Regions from separate parts of the Homo sapiens genome. Here all the other regions are linked to region 2. The links come from fine-mapping of genetic effects on gene expression. A gene starts in region 2. Each other region holds a variant in brackets. All regions are shown on one strand. Distances are between the middles of the regions.

Evidence for each region. PIP is the estimated chance that this variant, and not a neighbour inherited with it, causes the effect.
Region 1: its variant is fine-mapped to the expression of ARHGEF6 in nasal epithelium (TOPMed, PIP 0.91).
Region 3: its variant is fine-mapped to the expression of ARHGEF6 in monocytes after interferon gamma (Fairfax 2014, PIP 0.95).

Annotation. Positions count from the first base shown.
Region 1 is chrX:136,739,006-136,747,192 of GRCh38, forward strand. ARHGEF6 (Rac/Cdc42 guanine nucleotide exchange factor 6) reads right to left here. Exons shown (of 22, transcript NM_004840.3): 4 at 6,218-6,342; 5 at 4,580-4,781. Among named protein-coding and RNA genes, the nearest start is that of ARHGEF6, 38 kb to the right of the region's middle. The variant GAGA/G (reference allele first, on the strand shown) is at 4,265.
Region 2 is chrX:136,777,031-136,785,217 of GRCh38, forward strand. ARHGEF6 (Rac/Cdc42 guanine nucleotide exchange factor 6) reads right to left here and starts at 3,902. Exons shown (of 22, transcript NM_004840.3): 1 at 3,688-3,902; 2 at 2,384-2,467. The coding sequence starts at 3,852. RefSeq lists an enhancer at 2,338-2,557.
Region 3 is chrX:136,661,030-136,669,216 of GRCh38, forward strand. It overlaps ARHGEF6 (Rac/Cdc42 guanine nucleotide exchange factor 6), which reads right to left. Exons shown (of 22, transcript NM_004840.3): 22 at 4,521-7,140. The coding sequence ends at 7,000. Among named protein-coding and RNA genes, the nearest start is that of CD40LG, 17 kb to the left of the region's middle. RefSeq lists an enhancer at 5,256-5,345. The variant G/A (reference allele first, on the strand shown) is at 4,654.

The sequences.
Region 1 (8,187 bases), 38 kb before region 2:
CATCCCCCACGCTACCTCCAGAAAGATCTTCCTAGACCATGTTATCCCTTGCTTAAAACTTGACATTGACACCGCCTCTTAATGTAGCTCCAGCTCAAGGTCCCATTCCTTATCATCATGCATCTGATTCTCAACCCAAATCACCCCACCATCCACTCTTACTTCCATGCTTGAACTTAAAAGTTCCCTCTGATCTTCTTCTCCCAGTCAGAAGCTTCTTCTATCCTTCAAGACCCAATTCAAGTGCTTCCCCACTCCTTATGTTATTGTTAATCAAATTGTTTCTTCACTGTTCCTACAGCATCTTACTCAGTCCTTTGTCTGTGCTACTTACTGTGTCCTGGCCTGTAACAGTTAGTTCTGCACAGACCTGTGTTGATTACTAGACTGTAAAGGTGCTAGGGGACGGGGTCTATGAGGTATAGATTGCGCCTAGGAGGTACTCAGTGAACAAGCTGAACAGAATTGAATTACCTACGCTGTAATATTCATTCATTTTACAAATATTTACTGAGCATAAACAAAACGAATGAAGTCTCTGCCCTTGTGGTATTTACAATTCTAATGGTAAAATGTAAACAGTAAATGAAATAAATAAGTAAACGTGTATTATGTTAGACGGGGAAAAATAATAAGCAAAAAATTTAAGCAGGGAAGAGGGATAGAGGGAGTGGGGATAGGGTTAAATTTTCTCCTGGGTGACCAGGAAAGGCCCTCCTGTGAAGTAGGCAAGTGAGTGGACCTGAAGGAGATGAGGGAGCCAGCTGTGCTGATAGCTGGAGAATGTTCCAGACAGGGGGACAGCAAGTGAGGCAGGAGCCTGTCTGGCACAGGCAGCCAAGAGACCAGTGTGGCTAAAGTGGAATGAGTGAGGGGAAGAGAGATCAGAGAGGAAGCCAAAAGGGCAACGGAAGGCCAGATCCTGGAGGACCTTGGAGGCTATTGTGATGGCCTTGGCCTTTTCTTTTATTGAGATGGGGAGCCATGACCCAAGTTACATTATTATTATTATTATTATTTTTAGACAGAGTCTCACTCTGTCACCCAGGCTGGAGTGCAGTGGCACGATCTCAGCTCACTGCAACCTCCGCCTCCTCGATTCAAACTATTCTCCTGCCTTAGCCTCCCAAGTAGCTAGGACTATAGGCATGCGCCACCATGCCCAGCTAATTTTTGTATTTTTAGTAGAGATGGTGTTTCTCCATGTTGCCCAGGCTGATCGCGAATTCCTAACCTCAAGTGATCCGCCCGCCTCAGCCTCCCAAAGTGTTGGGATTACAGACATGAGCCACCGTGCCCGGCCCCAAGTTACATTTTGAAAGAATCACTCTGGGTACTGAGTTTAGACTGGATTATAGGAGTGACAAAAACAGGGGCAGAGATGCCAATTAGGAAGCTGCTGCCATAAGCTAAATGAGAGAGGTTGTTCCATACACTGCTAGTTCCAGGCCTTCCCTGACTAGCACTCATTTCCTGACCCAAGCAACTCAGACCTGTCCTTGACAGTTGGGTTAGATGCTTCTAAGGGTTACCTAAGTGCTCAAGTCAGAGTCGGAGCTTGCCACATGAATCCTAAGCTGAGTCCTAAACCAGAGAGAATATAGGAGAAATTTTAAAATGAAGGCCCCTAAGACCAGAACAAATAACCTGGGGCAGTCTATAAGGGAGTGGCCAGACTGCTACAAGGAGTCACAGTGAGGGACATTATAAGGAGAGTCGTCAAAGTGAGGGTGTGCTGTTCACTTCCCAGGTCCCCTCGCAGTGCTTGGGATTCCTGGACAAAATTACTGCTCCTTTTAGTTTTGCAGATAAAGACACTGTATCAGGGAACAATGTTAGAGTGAACCTGGAAAATCTTTTAGGGATTTTCCTAAATTATATCAACAAAATTATATCGATTGAAAGATGTAGTGAGAGGTAAAAATCGTCTGTGAATATCATCAAAACCAAGGAAATTCCAGGCAAAGCCTGTGGAAATACTCCAGGGCTCAATAGAACCTTCTTGATTCCCAGTAATTAAAAATGCTAAGAAGTCTCCATATACGTATATAATTATAAATCTGTTAGTAAACATATTCCATTAAAGGGGATACCCCTTTTAACACAACATAGAACACAGAAAAGTGTGAAAATTAATTTTATCTTAAACACTTTAGGAAAAAGCTCCTAACTCTGGTTGTCGGGGGGAGAGTGCAAAGAGAAGAGGAACTTTCATTATCTACATTATACAGCTGACCCTTGAACAACATGGGTTTGAACTTTGCAGGCCCATCCCATTTATACGTGAAGACAATGAAAATGAAGACCTTTATGATGATCTACTTCCACTTAACTAAGAGTAAATGTATTTTCTCTTCTTTATGATTTTCTTAATAACATTTTCTTTTCCCTAGCTTACTTTATTATAAGAACACAGTATACAATACATATAACATACAATCAGTAAGGCTTCCAACCAACAGTAGGCTATTAGAAGTTAAGTTTTGGAGGAGTCAAAAGTTATACATGGATTTTCTTTTCTTTTTTTTTTTTTGTGTGTGTGTGTGTGTTTTATTTATTCTCAGTCTTAAAGTCGTAACTTTAGGGCAGTGATGAAAATAAAGCAATGCTCTGAACACTAGAATCTAGAAGTAACTAATAAGCCCTAATGATCCTACTGCCTTTAAGGGTCTTCAAGTTCCACATGTTTGAAGAAGGAAATTTATGTATTGAAATCATTCTAGAGAAGGCAAGGAAAGTGTGGGAAATCCTACCAAGTTACTCTGGAGAAAGACAGCTGCCTCCAAATATTCACATATTTCCCTCTTGATGAAATTGATGGAATGCTTCTTGATATTCTTAGTGTCTCATCCAGTACCTGCTCCATATTGAATGAATTGAGCCCTTAATGAGATGCCACTCAGGTGCCAGCCTTCAAGAATATCAAAATGAATCAGAAATTTTCAGCTCTCAAGAGCTCAGAGTTATATACGGATTTTCAACTGCATGGGGGCTCGGTGCCCTTAATCCCCATGTTGTTCAAGAGTCAACTGTAGCCAGGCGCAGTGGCTCACGCCTGTAATCCCAGCACTTTGGGAGGCTGAGGCGGGCGGATCACAAGGTCAGGAGATCAAGACCATCCTGGCTAACACGGTGAAACCCCATCTCTACTAAAAATACAAAATTTAGCCAGGCGTGGTGGCAGGCGCCTGTAGTCCCAGCTGCTGGGGAGGCTGAGGCAGGAGAATGGCGTGAACCCGGGAGGCGGAGTGTGCAGCAAGCCGAGATTGCGCCACTGCACTCCAGCCTGGGTGACAGAGCAAGACTCCGTCTCAAAACAACAACAACAAAAAAAAATAGAGTCAACCGTATATTTCCAGAATGTTTCATTTTACTTACAGTGAGCCTAAAATTTTATTAATTAATTAATAGTATCAATTTTGAGGCATTGAAAAAGCAATAAGATATTTACAAAAGAAATAATGCGCTGAGCTAACCACTCAAAAGAGCCCTTGTGTAAATATTTTTGAAAAGTAAAGAGATGTAATAATGTGAATAACTAAATGCTGTTTTATGTGTATTGTGAGGGACATATTCTTATGTATAAGGGTTTGCTGGGTTTTTTGCAATATCAGAAGAGCCTACCTTCTTAAACAATAAAGGGCAAGTGAATTATCAAAAAAACTCTAAGGAAAACTACTGAAGAGTGGCCAGGCACAGTGGCTTATGCCTGTAATCCCAGCACCGTGGGAGGCCGACACAGGAAGATCACTTGAGCCCAGGAGTTCAAGACCAGCCTGGGCAACACAGGCAGATCCGTCTCTACAAAAAGTTTAAACATTAGCTGGGTGTGGAAGGCGTGCACCTGTAGTCCCAAATACTTGGGAGGCTGAGGCAAGAAGATCACTTGAGCCCGGGAGGTCCAGGCTGCAGTGAGTTGTGATAGCCACTGCACTCTGCCTGGGCAACAGAGTGAGACCCTGTCTAAAAATAATAATTAAAAAAAGAGAGAGAGAGAAGAAAAGACTACTGAAGAGCAATTCGATTTCATTCTCTGGCTATTGTTACAAAAAAAAGGTAAACAGCTAGCAGTATTCAGTGAGTTAAGGGCAATCTTGTTCAGCATCAAAGCGGCCAGACAGCTTCCTGCAGCCCTATCATTATTATCTCTCATGTCTGAGGCATTTAGTCTCAGGTCTGCTTACAGGGCTTAAGGCTAAAAAAAGGAAGTTAGCACATGGCCTCTCTTATTATTGGATTCTGCCATGGTAAGTTTTAGAGTGGT[GAGA/G]AGGACTATGTACTATATTACATGGGCTAGAATTAGTAGACATAAAGGGATACAGTTAGGGTGGACCAGTTGTCTGAGCTTTGAATTCCTTTGCTTTTTTTATTTTTCTGCTGCCTTAATGTAATCTAAATACAATTTGTTTCAAAATATCTAATCACAGATTTTTCCCAGTTCTGTTCTACTCTTATTTTTGGCATACACATACAAGTATAAACAGCTTCTGTTAACCAATTAAAACTACACAATTTTCAGTAAGAATACCAAGAAAGTACAAGAGTCACAATCAAAAAGCCTTTTAAAAACTTCACTTACCACTGGATTTAATTTCACGGACATAATTACTGGGGAACCAGCCTGTTCTCCCATTTAATGTGCCTTCCCACCAGCCTCCTTCTTCAACTCGTGTGACGTAAATGATGTCCCCCTTACAAACTGACAGTTCATCCTCATTAGTCTGCTTAAAGTTGAATCTTGCTTTTACTATCAACTGATGACTTCCATTTTCCGTCATCTCCTAGAGAAACAAAAGCCACACCAGATTAAGCACTCATCTAAATAAGGCAGGGGTAGAAATGATATGGATATAGGCAAATAAAGTGGAGGAAGCAAAGACAAAACCCCAGATCCATCTCAGTCCTGAGTTTTTAACTTAGGAATCCATGAATGGGTCTCAGAGGGATTAATAAATCCCTCAAAACAGTATGTAAACTTTGGCATTTGTGAGAATCTGTATTTTGAAGTGGGTCATAGCTTTCATTTTTCTCTCCACACCCCTCCCCATTATCTAAAGATTATCTATTTAACTAAGCCAGATAACAAAGTAGAGTGATAAGCTATTCCACCCTGGATAAGCTATTCCACCCTGCCTCTACTCAACACACAAACAGTCCACATAATTATATAACCAAGATGTACTAACCTACCCTCCATAAAATCTGCCTCCCATCTCCTAATTACTAAGGATATCTTAATTTGGCTAAGACTTATTTATATGCAAAGATCAAATAACCCATAGTTGCCTAAGTCAGGAATTCTTTTTTCCATTTTTTTATTTTTATAGATTTAGGGGGTACAACTGCAGTTTTATTACATGGATATATTAAGTCAGGAATTCTTAATCTGTCATGTATAAACTGGACTTCCTTTTTGAGGGTCACAGACCCTTTAGAGAATCTGATGAGCACAACATATTTTTGTCTAAATAAGTTCATACACATGGGCTTTTGTATACAATTTGAGAGGGTACCAGGGGTGTAGAGACATAGTGTTCATCAGCCTTTCAAAGGGATCTGTGATCCAAAAAAGTTAAGAACCACATGCTCAAGTGCTTTGGAAGTAATAGGTCATAATGTCTTACTGCAAGTGGGTGGCTTTTGACAGGAAATAAAGGTTTCACCCAAAGAGCAGAAGATGAGGCATTTCCTCCCAAATAAAAGCTCCCAATAAGAGCAAGTGAAAAGGCAACTGGGAGATCCTAATATAGAAGCTCATCATAGACTGAAATTTAAAATCAAGCCTTCCTCATTAGGAATGGAAAGAGAAAAATAAAAATGGCAATAATAATGAGGATACTAATCAATATTTATTGATTGCCTACTATGTGTCAGGCACTATTTAGTTCTAATAAAACAAGGGATAGGGAAATTAACAGCAAACTGCCATCAGAAAGTAGCCATAATGACTTCCATTTGCATAGCATTCTCAGTTAAGTGACTTGCCTAATTCTCGTAAGGGACAGAGCTGGAGCTTCAATCCGGATTTTTGCCCCACCACATGCCTTTGATTTGCTCCTTCGGGCCAGCCTGAATTGGTGCTCGGTTTATAATTAGTTTTCTCAGTGATGCCCAAAACAACCCGGATGGCTGTCTCACCACATATGGAGATGCAACTAGGATATCAATCTAATTTTATGGATTTTAAAACAGACGGAGAATTGGGGACTATACTTACCACTGTCTTTGACTGCCTTTGCAGCCCTGAAACTGTGCTAGAAACTGCTCCCTGTGGGTTTGTCTGAGAAGTATTAGCAGCACTAAGAGAAGAGGAACGTCCACATGGTCTTTCTGATAGCTGATCTGTGAAAAGAGGAAAAGGCATGTTAAAGGAACCACTCAGATCAGAAAAACATCTACCGCATAACATTATCTTTCTCAGGATACTATCAGAGGCATCCTGGCTGTAATTCTAACTGTTATCATTATGAACATGCCAAGTGTATTTCAATCCCCCTTCCCTTTTTGGTGGCCAACTTCCTGTTCTTAACCTTACTGGCCATCGTGCTCCAGTAGAATGAAAAACAGCGACAGAACCACATTTTCTCTTAACCATTTCCCTACAACTCTTCCCTCCTGAACCAGTTGCAACAGTATGCCCTGTTATCCAAGGCAGAACTATATTGGGTACCAAACAGCTGTTTGTGGCTCTTATTACTTTGAAATATTTCAAATTTCTCTCTTTGTTTTTTGGCCCATAACTCAGTGGCTCATTTCTTACTCACACGTAACAATATGTGTGGCATATATGATGTAAAATCTCCCTGATGTGTGTGGGGCAGGGTGGAGAATGAGAGTGAAAGAGAAGATGTGTTTGGGAAAGATGTAATCTTGATACTAGAATAATTTTTTTAACAATCAGATTCAAGAGTCTTCTCTTCCTTGAAACCTTGTGAAATTCGACCAGGCCAGAGCTGAGCTGGATGTTTTCAGTTTGTTGAGAGTATACAAAAGAGAGGAGCTGGCTTCTTGACAAATTTCAATAAGGGTTCTTTTCCTCTCCATTTATTTTTAAAAGATATAAACTGCAAAAGTCTAAAGCCCAAACATTCCCTAGGCGACAAGCTCAGTATCCAAGTAATTTCCTTGATGCTGTGGGTTTTAACTTTCACCTCCTTGTATTTTATAAATATCTGTGGCAAGGGAAGAGACTGTAAAACTTGCTAGGAGAGTTTGGCAAAGGAACGTATAATTTGTGTGGCATAATGTTAGAATTACACGATCCTCCCTGACTAGAACTGGATAGTTGTCATGTGTGTTAAATATAGTTACTTGAATTAGCTGTACTTTCAGCTATACGCCTTGCAATAGCTCAAAAGCATTTTTTTTTCCAAATAGCAAAAGAACAACTTTGGAGAAGTATTTTTACTTGTATTGCTATTATATACAGCTCTTTTGACAAAAACTATAATTACTCGATAGCTTCCTAGATGCTCTAACCTATTTGGCACTTGATTATATTGTCTGCTCTTGTCCTCTAATTGTTTCACGTGGGTAAGTTGAGTCTCCTTAAATAGACAGTAATTTTCTCAAAGGCAGGGACCATAGCTTTGACATTTTTTGTAGCACCTGGCGATGCTGGGCACACAGCCTCTTGACTCTACAACAGTTTGAGCAGCAAGCCTCGTGCTTGGGCATAAGGGCTCTGTAGTCATTCAGATGTGGGTCTGAATCCCAACTCAGCGACTAACTTTCTAGTTGGGCAACTGTTGGCCTGACTTTCCTTATCTGTAATATGGACCTAATAATAATAATACCTACCCCCAGTGTTGTTTCAAGGATTGGATGAGATCACCTGTGGCTCTTATGACAGCCTAGATCCAGGGCAAGAGCTCAAAGCATTTTAAGTATGATTATTACTATTCAGCTGTTGGTAAAATATACCAGGGAAGGAGTGAAGCTACATTCTAAGTGTATCATCATTTTCTTCACATTTACTAGCATTTATATTTAATACCTCTAGTGTGGTAGGTGTTAAACATTTAAATAAAAGATATTATTTTCACTCCCTATGACCCCAAGATTTCATTTTTGGTGCAAGGCTACTGAGGGGTTCCTTTACATGGACAAAGGCATACATAAAACAATGAGAAAAATATGTCTCTAGTGGGGAAAGGGAAGTGACGGCTGTATTTTGTAAACTCTATG
Region 2 (8,187 bases):
CCTGGCCAACATAGTGAAACCCTGTCTCTACTAACAACACAAAAATTAGCCAGGCATGGTGGCGGGCGCCTGTATTCCCAGCTACTCAGGAGGCTGAGGCAGGAGAATCGCTGGAACCAGGGAGGTAGAGGTTGCAGTGAGCCAAGATCACACCACTGCATTCCAGCTTGGGCAACAGAGTGAGACTCAGTCTCAAAAAACAAAACAAAACAAAAACAAAAAACAAATAATCCCATCAAAAAGTGGGCTAAGGACATGAATAGACAATTCTCAAAGAACATATACAAATGGCCAAGAAACATATGAAAAAATGCTCAACATCACTAAGCACTGGAAATGCAAATCAAACCACAATGAGATATCACCTCACTCCTGCAGAAATGGCCACAATTAAAAAAAAAACAAAAAATATTAGATGTTGGCATGAATGTGGTGAAAAGGAAACACTTCTACACTGCTGGTGGGAATGTAAACTAGTACAACCACTATGGAAAACCTTAAGTATGGAGATTCCTTAAAGAAGTAAAAGTAGAACTACCATTTGATCCAGTAATCCTACTACTGAGTATCTACCCAGAGGAAAAGAAGTCACTATATGAAAAGGACACTTGCACACACATATTTATAGTAGCACAATTTGCAATTGCAAAGTTATGGACCCAGCCTAAATGCCCATCAGCCAAAGAGTGGATAAAGAAAATGTAATATACATATATATAATATGTATACATACACACACACACACACACACACACACCATGGAATACTACTCAGCCATAAGAAGGAACAAAATAATGGCATTCACGACAACCTGGGTGGAGGTGGAGACCATTATTCTAAGGGAAGTAACTCAGGAATGGAAAACCAAACATCATATGTTCTCACTTATAAGGGGGAGCTAAGCTATGAGGATGCAAAGGCATAGGAATGATGTAATGGGCTCTGGGGACTCAGGGGGAAGGGTGGGAGTAGGGTGAGGGATAAAAGACTCTACATTGGGTACAGTGTACACTGCTCAAGTGATGGATGCACCAAAATCTCAGAAATCACCACTGAATAACTTATCCATGTAACCAAACACCACCTACCTGTTCCTCCCAAACTATTGAAATAATATTTTTTAAAAAGGTCACACGAGTCCTATGAATTCGGTGCCACTATTATTCCCATTTTGTAGGTAGGAAGACTGAGGCCTAGAGTCATAGTTAAGTAACATGCCCAAGGTCACAAAGCTGCTAGTAAGAGAGAACTGAGATTTGAACCCAAAAAGTTTAGCACCACAGTCCATGCTTAAACCACAACTATTTGTCCACGGATAATATGACTAATACTAGTCTATTAATATAGAGTACTTCTTCTGTCCCAGGCCCTATGCTAAGGACTCTACATAAATTATCTCATAGATCTTACAAGGTTGGAGCTCTTGGCCCTAAATTATTATGCAGTATCTTATTTGATTCTTTTTTTTTTTTTCGAGACAAGGTCTCTTTCTGTCATTCAGGCTGGAGTGCAGTGGTGCAATCACAGCTCACTGCAACCTCCACCACCTCTTGGGTTCAAGCGATCCTCCCACCTCAGCCTCCCGAGTAGCTGGGACTACAGGCACAAGCCACCACGCCTGCCTAATTTTTGTATTTTTTGTAGAGTCACCATTTCACCATACTGTCCAGGCTGGTCTCGAACTCCTGGGCTATAGCAATCCTTCTGCCTTGGCCTAGGATTAAAGGCATGAGCCATCATGCCCGGCCTTATTTGATTCTTAAAGCAATCCCATGAGTTGGCTATTAGCATGTCCGTTTTACAGATAAAAATACTGAAGCACAGAGAAGTTAAGCAACTTGATGCTCGTGTGGAAGTATCACCTCCCTTTCAGTAACACTTCCTATACACACTGTAGGGATCCATATAATATAAAATAATGCCACAAAATTTACTATACAATTTCTACCTCAAAGCCAAGTTCTCTCAGCTTTTCAAGGCCTCTGTTCTAAAGTGTTAATGGGAAGGAGTAACAATGGCCTTTCCTCTTTTCTCAACTTGGGAGGATTACAGTGACCCTCTCCAACAGTCAGTGGCCCACTTTTGGTTCCCCTTAGTAGGAGAACACACCCACACAAGCTCTGTCACTGGAAGCCTGTTTACAGGGCTTGGATGCTGTATATAAAAGGCATTATTGTGTGAGTTTTTATTTTGTTTTGTTTTGCTTGGAACTGGTTTCTGGAAAAGACAGACTAGCAATCCATTACTGGGGACCACCAGTCTGCTACCTCTGTTTAACTCAGTGGCCAATGACAGTGAAAATAAACAAGTACTCTTACTACCAATCTTGATTAGCAGAGCAAAAAAACGATGACAACAGGGAAGGCACCCGGGGTAGGCTTACTTCCACTTGGAGGGTTGCACATCCTTTCAGGAAGTCATTGATGTTGTTGATGCAGTCAGCTTCAGTTTGGGGATCCAGACAAAACTAGAGGAACACAGTGAAATGTCACTTGGAGATTGTCATCCCATGCCAAGCAAAGTATACTCATCATTTGCTGATAACTAGAGAAAGCAGGCCTCTTAAGGTGTGGGGCAACACTGCTGTCAATCCAGGAAGAGAAATAACCACTGAAGGAAGTGATGCAAAAATCTAAACGGTCGATCTTTGTTTCAAATGTCACCAAACCTTTAGTGGCAAGCCATGTCTACTTACAAGCTTTCTCTCATGCCTTCTGTTCCAGTGTGCTGATGGCAAATTAGGGAGACCAAGACAGTTTTTTGAGCTTAGTTCTTGCTTTCAAGAAAGGAAGCAATCCCTGGTACCTCTCTCTCCTCCTTCCCCCTGATAATTTAATAAAATTCTATTTCCCCTCTACATTTGACCACACTTCTTTACATTTTATCACTATTTAATCACTCTTTCTCAAGTTTAAGAAATTATAAGTAAATTTATTTGCTCAATAAAAATACAAACTGGCTCATGAAGGCAAAAGTGCTATGCTCACAGTCCATGATGACCTTAAGAAAGTAAATGTAAAATTGTACCTTTAAGCTTACTTAAAGTGCCTACTTTAGAAATTATCTATTCTCGTGATCGTGGATTTCCAGCTATTAAAAATCTTGAATTGTTTTAAAGAGAGTAAAGTTAGTTTCACTTTGAACGCACATTGCATTCGAAACATATATCTGGTTTCTATTGCTTTTACAAACTTTATGTGACATTTTGAATTATTTTTTTCCTAGTTGCTATATAGTCTCTCCTTCAATGGATTTTTCTAAAAGGAAATCTACACTGATTTTAATCAAACTGCCAATAAACACCACCAAGATCTGTTATAAATCATTCTATTTTTCCACAGACTCATAAGTACCCCAAGTTCAAAACATGTCCTCGGTACACAAGGAGATGTAACATGCATCTCCATGATAGAGCAAGCTTGTGATATGAGTGTTCTCCTTGTCCCTTGTTGCCAGTGGTGTCACAGGTTTTCCCTATACTACAATTTGGGGGCCAATTACTAAAGAATAACGTTTCATTTTCTTACATTTTCAAACTACAAAAACAGTAAGAAAGAATGTCTAACTCTTAGAAAAATATTAAAGTAGGAGATTCCCATGGCCTGGGAAATAGAAAAATCTCAAGAGTTACATGATTGCTGCTCTCTGGTGATAAGCAATCCCAAAGAGACTGCAAATTTCCCTTACCTTTTCCACAGAGCCAGGCATGAGTCTGTTGATCAGTTTGCACAGAACTACCCCATTTTTCAGCGAGGACTTTAAAAACTCCTCCGGATCACAGATGGTCTTTTTAGGGGACTCTAAAACTCCCAAAGATATAAGCCATGTCACGATTTGTTCTTCTGGATTCATTACTGAGGACGGTACACTCCAAACAGCACTCTGGGGCAGCTGCAAGGACTAAGCCACATCCGCGATTGCATCTGCTGTTGTCTTCCTTTTTATGAGTTCTCTTCGGGTGCTTGCAGAGCAAAGGTTTAAAGCAACTTTTCTTAAACAACAGCGGAACCCACTCAAAATATGGGATTTTAAAACCACAGAGATCACGGTCCAAGATGTGGAAACAGATAAGAATTAATTTAACAATCCTGGATAACGCTGGTTTTTCCTTTTCAAAACCTGCAAAACAAATTCGTTAGGATAAAAAAAAAGAAGAAACGCACATGCACACACGCATACACACACACGCACACAGAGTGCAAGAAGTTATAAGGGAAGAAAGTGAAAAGGATGCTGGGGAGGGAGGAGAGACAAGCAAGCAAGTGCTTTGGGAAACAGAGGTGAGCCAGCACTTCAGGGGACCTTGGAAATGAGACACTCATGGGCCAGTCTGGGAAAACACTGTCAATAAATAGTCTAGCCCCAGTGAAAATCTGGCTTCTGTTAGGAGGACGATGCCAACTGGCTCTTAGGTCAGACAGATCTGAGCCTCATGGGGAGATGTGCTGGCACAACAGGGCTCAAAGAAGGTAGACAGAAAATTCTTCCAAGAAATAGCCGGATGTCCTCATAGTATCTCCCAGAGATGGTGTGTCACGATCATTCCTTGCAAAACACGTTGAGTTGCATGGTGACAACGTGCCAAGCAAACGAAGATTATGCCTGCTGTCAGCCATCACTGTGTATAAGCAGAAGCTAGAAGAATGGCATTTTACTTTGCAGCCAAAAAGCTATGTTTAGGGAAATAGGCTAAGGATAACATCTGACATCCTGTTTACTTGCATTCTTTAGCAATTCTTTTTCTGGACCTGGTTCCACTACATAATCCAGCTGCAGTACCCTTAGCAAAGGCTCAGACTCAGTCACATAAGTGGGTAAAATACACTTGAAAAAATAGAATGTTTGAGAACAAAAGAGCACTTGTCCTCTGTCTACACTACAATATGGAAGATTCTTATTTTCCCAACAACAACAACAACAAAAAAACACTTTGCACTTAAAATACTGCTCTGAAAAAAAAACTGTCTATAACAAGAGATCTTCATCATTCTCAAACATTTTCAGAACCACTTGAAATAGGCATACTATTGGGAAATTTATGATAAGGCCAACTTTAATAGTATAACCCTATGTTGGCAAATGTGTGGCACTTACCATGATTACCTCTCCTCGTGCATGGGAGACATCAGATCATGTATAGCTCTTTCCTACTAAGCCTCAGAATTCTTTTCAACACAGCTTCAGGCATCTACTACCAAAGAATCAGCTTAGATAACCCTACTAAACATTTTCAAAGCTGCCCTTTCTTGCTCTGTCAGGACACTTGTCACACTTTACTATTATCACTTGTTGATCTGATGATCTGACTCCTCCACAAGAATGTAAACTTCCTAAACTCGGGGTCTTGTTTTTTTTTATTTAACACTGTGTTACCAGCAGACTGCCAGGTATACACAGTAGATGTTAAAAAATGCTGAATGAATAAATGAATGTATTCAGATGGTGTCCCTGATATAGACAGTAACTGATTATAGCAAGGATTTTTTGTTTGTTGGTTGGTTTAAATGGCTTAAAACAAACATTTTTTCTTGTTAATGATTTTTACCATTTTATTAAGCTGTAATTGACACATAAGGAACTGCATATATATGATTTAATGAATTTTGACATATACATACATCTTTGATACAATCACACAAATGCAATCCAGATAAGCCTTTCCATCACCCCCAAAATTGTCCTCGTGCCCTTTCAATTCTTTCTTTCCTCTTTGCCTCCAAATGCCAGGCAACCACCAATCTATTTTCAGTGTCTATAGATTAGTTTGCATTTTCAAGAATCTTATATAAATGGAAGTACACAGTATGGTACTATCTTTTTTCTGGCTTCTTAACTCAACATCATCATTTTCATACTCATTCATGTTATTGTGTCTGTCCATAGTTCTATAACAAGGTTTGCTTGATGTACTTGTGACTTAAGCAAAATAAGTATAATCAATCAAAAGTTTTCATTGACGTTGACCCATGGCCAAATCTATGTAATGGAAATAAAAACAGAATACATTTGTTGATAAATAAAATTCCCAAATCTGACGAACTTAAACACATTTTTATATGTCATCTGAACAGTTTTCACAACTGCTCATCAAAATTTTACTCTACAGACAAACAAAATCTGGCAGTATTATTGAGGTATCACTTACATCTTCTGATGAAGAACAAAGCCTGAGTAAGTTTTGTGAACCCAGCCTCCTCCAAAACAGTCTTGAGTTCACCAAGGTCATCTGGATAAAACTCTGCCTCATTTTGGACACTCACTATAGCAAATATTACTATGAGTAATAAAGTATATCAGAATGGCAAGGCCACTGCCTCAAGGCAAAAGAACCAGTTCTATTTGTATAAAGATTGGAAGTTACAGTTGGTGTGGTAAAATGTCAACAAAGCAAGGAATTCCAGGGCAGTGGCAAGCATATAGGTGAAATGGGTACCCATGAAACCCAGGCTGGTTAGGGACTCAAATGAAGCTAGAAAGGAGCTGATGAACTGAGGGAATAGGGGAAGAGGGGGAATTCAAAGACTGGGGGTCACAGCAACACAAAGAGCAGGCTTCACACAAGAGCATGAGAAAAAAAAGCAAAGATCTCTCACCCTACCTCAGATCCTCAGTACCACACCCTCTGGGCCACTGAACCTGCCTCTTCAAGGGCTTTCCACCTCCATCCTCTCATCCTAATGAACTCTCTAACAGGGCACATTTGGGTTGATTTTCCAAAAACACCTCTAGTGTTAATACCCCTGTTCAAAAACCCTCAAAGGCTCTCTATTGCCTAAAGCAGGAATTGACAAAAAACAATGTTCATATGATCATCTCCTGTGAGGCATAAAGGAGAAAGGAAGGTGAGAGTGGAACTTAAGCTAAAATAGGTAACATTTCATGAAAAATCAAAAGATCTTCAGGAAATAAGGCAAATGTGAACATTTGTTAAGACTGAATGCTGGGTACACTGGTACCTGTTTTACTATTTAGTTTTGTGTGTTTAAAATGTTACTAACCGATTCTCTTTCATTTCAAATCTACTAAGGCACTTACTAAAAAAGAATATTTGGGAGCTCTCTTCCCAGATACTCCAGTTCAGAAGATCTGCAGTGGGAAAAAGGAATTTGTGTTATCAAAGTATCCCACTTGATTCTGATGCAGATAGACCAAGGTCACACTTAGAGAAATGAGTTTATTGGTCTCTAACCTTCTACACCACTCTAATTTCTGCCAACACTTGGGTCATTTCAATATCCACAAGAACAACAATCCAACATCAAGACCTCTCAGTTCCTTGAACTTCTCAACCTGTAATCAATTTATTACCTCTCATTTCCCCTTTATGCCTATTCTGTGAAATGGACCTGGGACCTTGAAATATTTCTGACTTTGCCAGCTGGCATGATACAAAGTTTTATCAGTAGGCAGTGGTGGAGAGACATTGCAGGAAGAAGGGGTTTTACTTCCTGTTTTCTGTGCGCTCACTCCACAAGCTCCTGCTGAGCTCCCAGCTTTCCTATTGCCCACCTTCTGCAGCACTGGTTTTCCCAACAAACAGTAGGTAGCAACCTCCCCAGGCACTACCCTTGAGTGTTTAGGCAGCAAAGAATCTCTGATGAGACAGACACCTTCCATGTGAACCAGCACCGTAGAGGGGTATATTTCAGCAAGTTCCAGAGAATGTACATCCAACAAGTTCCACCAACTCAGCACCAGAGCAACTTCTCCAATAAGGCCTGGATCTCGACCGTGGGTGGAGAGGAGGGTTATCACAGCTCTAGAGGTATCGGCCATTACATATTATTTTTATATTGTCTGCTATTTATATCTGCTATCCCATACTTTTTAGAGTTTCCTTTATTTATTACTAACCAATTCTTCAACACTCCAATCCCCTGTTATTGTTAATTCTTTATGTTAAACTCTTCTTGTTAAAATTACTATGTAGTAGGCTGGGCACGGTGGTTCACACCTGTAATCCCAGTACTTTGGGAGGCCAAGGTGGGCAAATCACCTGAGGTCAGGAGTTTGAGACCAGTCTGGCCAACATGGTGAAACCCAGTCTCTAATAAAAATACAAAAATTAGCCAGGCATGGTGGCGGGCATCTGTAATCCCAGCTACTCTGGAGGCTGAGGCAGGAGAATCGCTTGAACCTGGGAGTCAGAGTTTGCAGTGAGCTGAGATCGTGCCATTGCACTCCAGC
Region 3 (8,187 bases), 120 kb before region 2:
TAGTTCCTCAAACCCAGTACATTCCAACCGAACTCTTAACTTTTCCCCCCACACAATGGGATCTGTGTTCAATGTTTCCCAGTCCAATGAATGGTGTCTTTATCTACCCAGTTTTTCAAGTCAGAAACCTGGCTTGACTTCACTCTCATCACCCCCATGTTCAATCCCTCCAGCCTATGCTCATCAACCCTATCTCTTAAGTAGTCCTTAATCTACTTCTTTCTATCTCTACTATTTCTATCCTAGTCCCAACTGTCACCATCTCTCTTCTGGAATAGTACAACAGCCTCCTAGATTCCCTGCCTCCACTCTTGCTCCCTTCCATCAATTCTCCATGCACAGCCAGTCCCCTGCTTCTTATGAACCTTGGAATAAAGACCAAAATAATCAATTTCATCTCCTGCTGCCACCTCTCTCGGTCTCTTAAGTTCTAGCCCTCAGTTCCTCTAAGCAAGGTTACAAATGCTTTCCTACCTTAGGGCCCTGGAATGCTGTTTTCTCTTCTTGCAAGACCCATTTCTCTCCCTCACTGCACCCTGCACTTAGCAAGTGCTTCACAGCACTTATCATGGTTGAAGTTTTCCCTACTATGCTGTGAGCTTCTTGAGGACCAAGACCTTGTCCCATTCACCATGATAACTTCAGCGTCTACCACAGGACCTAGCATTGAATTGGCCCTTTATTTGGTGCATGAAGGAATAAATGAATGAATAAATACAGCTGCTTATAACTCAATAGCCCAGAAAATAATTCTGTGTGTTGGCTGAGGCAAAAATTTGCTACACTGAAAGGATCCTCATTAGGTCAAAAATATCTGGATGATAAAAATGCACTCATGGAGTAAAAAATGACTGAGAATTATGCTGTAGCTAAAAACAGATAATATGTTTTTATTATACATTTCATGATAATTTGCAAAATAATATATGTTTGTTCCAAACTTCAATTGAACATTTTCAGCATTTTCCTATAAATGAAAAAGACTCGAGTACATTTCTGATGTACCTGTAATAGTCTGATCATAAATTATCTAACTTAGTTCCATTTTTATAATCATGTCACTTCTGCCTTCTATCTAAGGGGGAGGGTGGGAATGTTTGAAATACCAAATAATTATTTCTAGATAAAGAGAAAATAAACAAGGATAAAATATTACTGCCTCTGTTATTTGATGGTTAGCAAATGACCACAAAACGCAAACAGTGTGCTCTAGCAAGCTGTCAGAACAGGGGTGCCCCCACTTAAACGGAAATGACATGTAAACTTTTGGGCTTCAGGAGAGAATACATTCTGTGCTACATTCAACTATTTTCACAGGGCCCAATGCCACTGTGTTGGGAACTGCACTGCTTTAGACTTTTAAAGTAGTCTGAAGTACTTTGAGACACAGAAACATGGAACTAAGTATGATTTTTATGTTATTTTTCTCTGTGAATCACATCCCCACTAAAACAAAACAAAACCAGAAATGCTCATTGTAGTGTAGTAGTTAAATCTCGAGTCAGACAGATACAGTCTTAATCTAGGCTCCACTATTAACCAGCTTTATAAGTACAGGCAAGTCATTTCACCTCCTCTAGTCCTCTGTGTCTTCATCTGTAAAGTGGGAATAAAAAGAAGACATGCTGGGCCAGGCATGGTGGCTCACGCCTGTAATCCCAGCAGTTTGGGAGGCTGAGGCAGGTGGATCACTTGAGGTCAGGAGTTCGAGACTAGCCTGGCCAACACAGCAAAACGCTGTCTCTACTAAAAACACAAAAATTAGCCCAGCATGGTGGTGTGTGCCTGTAATCTCAGCTACGTGGGAGGCTAAGGCAGCAGAATCACTTGTACCCAGGAGGGGGAGGTTGCAGTAAGCCAAGATGGTGCCTGTGCACTCCAGCCTGGGCGACAGAAGCAAGACTGCATCTCAAAAAAAAAAAAAAAAAGTTTATAAAGATTCAGTGAGATTGTCCACAGAAAGTCCCCAGCAGAATCTGCTCTCTGGAGAAGATCATCATGTAAGAAGCACTAAGGTGGGTCTCTACATGGTCCCCAGCACACCTGTCTGCATTCAGTGGTGCAAGTGGACAGGGTGCCATCTTAAATGGTTGAAACTTCTGAGACCAAGGAGAATGCCTGGCAACCCAGGTACACATGAGAGCCTATGCTCATGTACTAGACCAAAGACCACACCCAATGTGAAGCAAAGTGAAACCAAAAAAAAGAAAGAAAGAAAAAGCAAACATTACAGTAGACCTGTGGATAGCAAAGACCCTTTTTTTATGGTATAGTTTTATTGTCAAAAACTGCTAAGCGCTGGGGGCTTGGAGTTGCCAAATTTTTCAGTAGGTTTGAGAAGATTACATATATATATATTATATATATATATTATATATATTATATATATATTATATATATTATATATATATATTATATATATTATATATTATATATATATATTATATATGTTATATATATATATATATATATTTAGATGGAGTCTTACTCTGTTGCCAGGCTGGACTGGAGTGCAATGGCATGATCTCGGCTCACTGCAACCTCTGCCTCCCAGGTTCAAGCGATTCCCCTGCCTCAGCCTCCCGAGTAGCTGGGGCTGCAGGTGCATGCCACCACGCCCAGTTAATTTTTTTTTTTTTTTGTATTTTAGGAGAGATGGGGTTTCACCATGTTGGCCAGAATGGCCTCGATCTCCTGACCTTGTAATCCGCCCGCCTCAGCCTCCCAAAGTGCTGGGATTACAGGCATGAGCCACCGAGCCCAGCCGAAGTTCTATATTTAGGAATGTTTCTTTAAAAGACGATGACCATTGATTCCCAGTCTAAGGGGCATCAGCACACAAACCTCCCCCTTCCATACCACACTTTCACACTCCTCTGAGTCATTCTTCAAGCAATTCAGTAACTTTCAGGAAACTGCCCCACTCCTGCAGTTCCACTGAGTTATCTATAAGGTAGCTGCATCCATGGGTCTGGAGATCAGGAGAAAAGTCAGAATGGAAAACTGTGGACATGGGAGTCATCTGCATTTTGATAAATGAAGTTATGGGGGTAGTCAAGGTTGTCTAGGAATAGGCTATAGATTGGAAGAGACGAGGAAAAGAGGATCAGCAATGTTCAGGGGACAGCCTAAGGAGGCAGGTCCAGCAAAGGAGACTGAGGGGTGACTGAATGAATGCCAAGAAAGTGTGGGCTCATGAAAACCAAGGAAGGAGAGATTCATCAAGAAGGCAAGGGTCAAATACTGCAGAGACGTCAAGGTGAGGATCGAAAAGCCAATGGATTTGTCAATTATAAGCTTAATAGTGACTTCACAAAGGTGGATGGCTAAGGTAGGAACCTTAGCATGTACCAAGTGTGCAGGAGGATACGTGATAGAGAGAGCATGGGTCCAAGAGTCAGACAGACTAAGGTTTCAAATTCCAGCTCCACCATGTACTAGCAAGTTACTCAACATCTCTGTGCCTCTGTTCATTTGTAAGTGGAGATAACAATAGTAAATACTTAATAAGGTTGTTGTGAGGCTTACATGAGCTTAATCGTGTAAACCACTTAGTACAGTGCCTAGCACACATGAGATGCCATGTTCTATCTATTGGCTCAGAGCAGGAATCATAAACCACTGAAGGTATCTCAGGCAGAAAGATAATCAGTTGTCTACAAAACCATTGGGCTACATAAGTGGAAGTCAGGGGAAGTCAGGAGGCTGCCACTGGACTAATGGCTTCAAGGTCATATCATTGCAGTTGTGATCCACATGTTAGGAGGCTGCTGCCACCACTACAGTCTCTCACTCACAAAGCTGTGAATAGACACACTGGAATGTGGAGTACAGAAGCCACAAACACATCTTTGGAATCACCTGCTGGCCACCAAACCCCAAGAAGATAGCCTCTGCCCAACTTAAGCCTTCCAAATTTTGTTGGCAGAAGTGAACATGTATCTGAACCCACATTTTATCCAGAACCCTAGCTGCAAGGGAGTCTGGGAAATTGATTTTTCAGCCTTTATGTTTTTGGAAAGAAACAGAAAAGGGGTAGGAATGCATGTGGAGCAGCAGATAATTTCCACCTCATCAATCTTTAAGTGGAACGAATATTTCCATCCTGAGTGCTGACACCAGCATTCCAACTGTGGTCAAAATATAGGATTATCACTGATTGACAAAATCCTGCCAAATTCAAAGAGGAATCAGGACAGGAATAAATATCAAGGGATAAGCTTGAGCAGGAAAATACATTTTTCTCTAATATCAAAAAGCAGATGGTGAGCAGGGATATAATTTATAGGTTTGGGCCAGAAGAAGAGAGGTAGAGAAGTTAAGGAAGGTTCTGTCTCAGGGCATGTATTATCTCTGTAAAGTTGGGAGCAAATGTCATCTGCCCTGAGTGAAAAAGGTTGAGACTGGCTAGAGGGCTTGGTGAGAGCAGACTAGCTAATGAGGGAAATGGGAGAGGAAGCTGACACAGCACAAGAAATCTTTCTGCACACCGGCTAGCAAAAAAAGAAGCAAAAGACTTATTTTTATAAAGCACTGTTTATTTTTATGTATTGAAAATGTCCATTTTAAAAGTCTTCAAAATAAAAACAAGTTAGAAAATTTGAGCTTGTGTTAAGAAGGGGAAGGACAGAAAAGGAACTGAAAGGCCTCTAC[G/A]GGCAGCAGTTTAATTACAGGGCAACAGGAACCCATTTATAGAGTATTGTAAACAACACAACTATGGCGACACTGCTCTCAGATTAACATGGCTTCATTTCCTTTATATTATAGTTTAGTGTGTAAGCATGGTTACCACTCTGCACAAGCTTCGTTATCCAGAGTACCGAGGGCCCCTCATCAGAAGGGCCAAGTCCCCGAAACATGCATATGTACTCATCACTGTAAAATGAAGACCTTTCAATATTTTCAGCAATCAACTAAAGTATTCCGTAATCACAAAAATGTTTCCTATAGATGCAGTTTGCACATTTATTGCAAGCCATTGACTAACCACAGAATGGGCAGATGTGAAGATCTGTGTTGATGTTGTTGGTGGTGGTGGTAGTACTGATGTTTTTAATTTTTAAGTGAAGGATGTTATATCTAAATGGCTGTGCTAAAAAACAGAACAACAGCCATTCCTAGAAATTTCTTTACTCTTCAGCTTCCAAACACGGCTGTGTGTGGTTGGCTGATGTTGGACTGCAAAAATAGTCCATTTCCTGTGGATGGTGTAATTTCTGCTGTGCAGCAAGCAGACAACAGCCCTGTACCATGTAGCTATGGGACCTTGAGACTCTCAGTACCAAAAATAAAAAGGGCTCCTCAGCAAGCTGGGGGTTTCAAACTTCAAGTTTTGTTTTTTCAGAGACAGAGGTGTCTCTCTGTTACCTAGGTTGGAGTGCAGTGGTGTCATCACAGCTCACTGCAGCCTTGACCTCCTGGGCTCAAATGATCCTCCCACCTCAGCCTCCTGAGTAGCTGGGACCACAGGTGTGGGCCACCATGCCTGGCTTCAAGTTTGGTTTTTAAACAATATTTGCAAAACCCACATTTATAGGCATCCATCAAATATATTATAAAGGCAATTCTGATCAGCCCTTTGGCCTCAATTTCCAGTGACCTTCCCCATCTGGCCAAATTTCTCTTGTCTTTTGGGGAGGGAGGGGTGAGTGGCACTGAGCCTTAGGCCAACTTTCAATGGCGCTGAATTTGGATGTGTGCTGTTCTGTGACTGTCTTCTAAACCTGGTTTCTCACAGTTCTAGTTTCTGGGATAAAGTGGATGATGTGATTCAATGAGCAACTTGAGTTAATCAGTCCTGAATAATCCAGCACACAGCTACTAGAGGGGCCCTTTTGTTCTGGATGTACAAGTTGGACCAGAAGCATATTTCTGCAAATACTGCTTAGAGTCCCACCCAAAGAGGCCAATTAATATTACAACTTCTCACAGCATATATGAGAGAGTAATAAAGTGAATGAAAGCTGTCTAGTAGGGCACAATATCTTCTTAATGCAGATTGTTTTGAAGGATAAAACATCACAGTTTGAATATGCAACGTACATAAAGTAACTCCTCACAGTCTAACTACATTTTTTTAAAAAGTAAGCAAAGCACATACATACTAGTTTACACACCACTTGGTAAGGTTGGCTAAAAGTACTGGGGAAATAGAAAACTTACACACTAGGCAGAATGAGGGAAAGAAACCTATCATGCAATGGGAAAAGGCGGTCAACTCTGCTACTAAAAGGGAGGATTGTCCAGTAGAATTTGCTGATGGATTTGGTGTTGGTGTGGGTGACCAGAGCTTCTGCCCCCCTGAGTTACAATTTACATGACACAAAAGGAATAAGGGTACTACAGTTTTCTTGGTCTTATAGACAACATAGGGCAGTAATTTTAAAACCTGTGATTGAGGGGAGGCATGTGATGGTCTAAGGAAGGGCAGCTGGATCATTGGGCAGATGTGTTTGTCTTTCATCCTACTCAAGCCATAGTCTGGAAGATTTGCCTTCGGTAAATTAAGTACTAAGAGGCTTGCAGGTACAGGAAAGCCCTGGGGAAAAGTTGGGTTCACATTTAATAAGCCTTGGCCAGCTGCTTTGCAAGGGCAGCCAGCCCAAAGAATGTGACCTGAGGGCAATGGCTGTTGCAGAGGCACTGTGAACTGAAGGCAATCTGAAGACCTTTTAAGTAACTGGCCTGCATTCCCTTTCTCTTTCTTACTGAATGGAAAAGACTCTGAGGCCATCTCTACCACCACTTCCTGCTTTTTCACCTGTTGAAAAAAAAAATGAACAACCAACCAATAACCAAACAACAGCAAATGCCCAAGCGCGCACGTGCACGCACACACATATGCACACAGCGGGGAGAGAAAGAGAAGAGAGAGGGAGAGAGAGAGAGAGACTCAAACACAAAACAAAAGCCAAAGAAGTGAGCAAACTGAGTCAAATCATTCAGCGGGACATTTCAAGATGCCCTGAAGGCACACTCCACCCAGTGGCACAGTGATGGTTATGGAAGAATTGAGGTCTTGCTACTGGACTCGCCTCGAATACACTCATCTGTTTGCTTCAAAAGCCTCCGCACCAGCTTTTCTAGGTCCCTTCTTGATTTCAGTTCTTCTTCCAGGCATTGCTTCATTCTTTTATTTTCCTATGATGGGGAAAGATTTGTTGATTATCAAACAGAGGGGGGCCCTTCCAAGGGCTCCTCCTGCTCATCCTCGGGGCAGCTTTCATCACTGACTCTCTTTCTTTCCTCGACCTTCCCTCCCTCAGCATCTATGACAAAGCAGCCTGTCGATTCTCCTGCCTGTCTCTGGGAAACCTTTTGGATTCTTCTTCCCTGCCCTGATCCTCTTCTAATTTAACTTGCTTTTCACTTAGTGTCACTTCTGTTTCAACCCAAGTGTCTATTAAGGGGACTCCCAAATATCTCTGGTACTGACCTTGTCTCCTGAGAATCGGGTCCACAATCTCAACTGTCAGCCTGGTATTTCTTCTTCTTCTTCTTCTTCTTATTATTATTATTATTATTATTATTTTATTTAAGAGATGGGGTCTCACTCTATTGCCAGGCTGGAGTGCAGTGTAATCATGGCTCACTGCAGCCTCAAACTCCCGGGCTTAAGTGATCCTCTCACTTACCTGAGATTACCTGGCAGCAGCTTGGTATTTCCACCTAGATATGTCACAAGCACCTTAAACTCATCAGGTCCTAAAGTGAACTCAGTATCTCTCTCAACACCCCAAACTTCTCCTCCTCCTGTGATTACTGATCTCCATGAAGGGGCACCACCATATGCAACCAGACACCCTGGGAAGAAGCTTCATCTTTAATCCCTGGCTCTTTCTTAATCTCAAAATCATATTATCCTCGTCCATAGGTTCAAACTCTGCAGTATGCCATCCTTTACATTCGTTTCCTCCTCCCCAGCCTCATTACCCTGCCTCAGTTCAGGACTCTGACAGGTTTCACCCTGAGTTTTGTAAGAACCTCCTAAGTGGTCTTCTAGTCCCTGGTCTCTCTCCCCTCGCATCCATCCTTCACTCTGTCACCAGATACAGTCAGTCCTCACACACAAGGCACAGTGTGCATCACGGAGCACTAGGCCACATCGGCAGAAAAGCCCACAAACCATGATGAATGGTTCTCTTTACACTTACACACTCATGAATGACTAGTCTTTTCTTAAAGTCT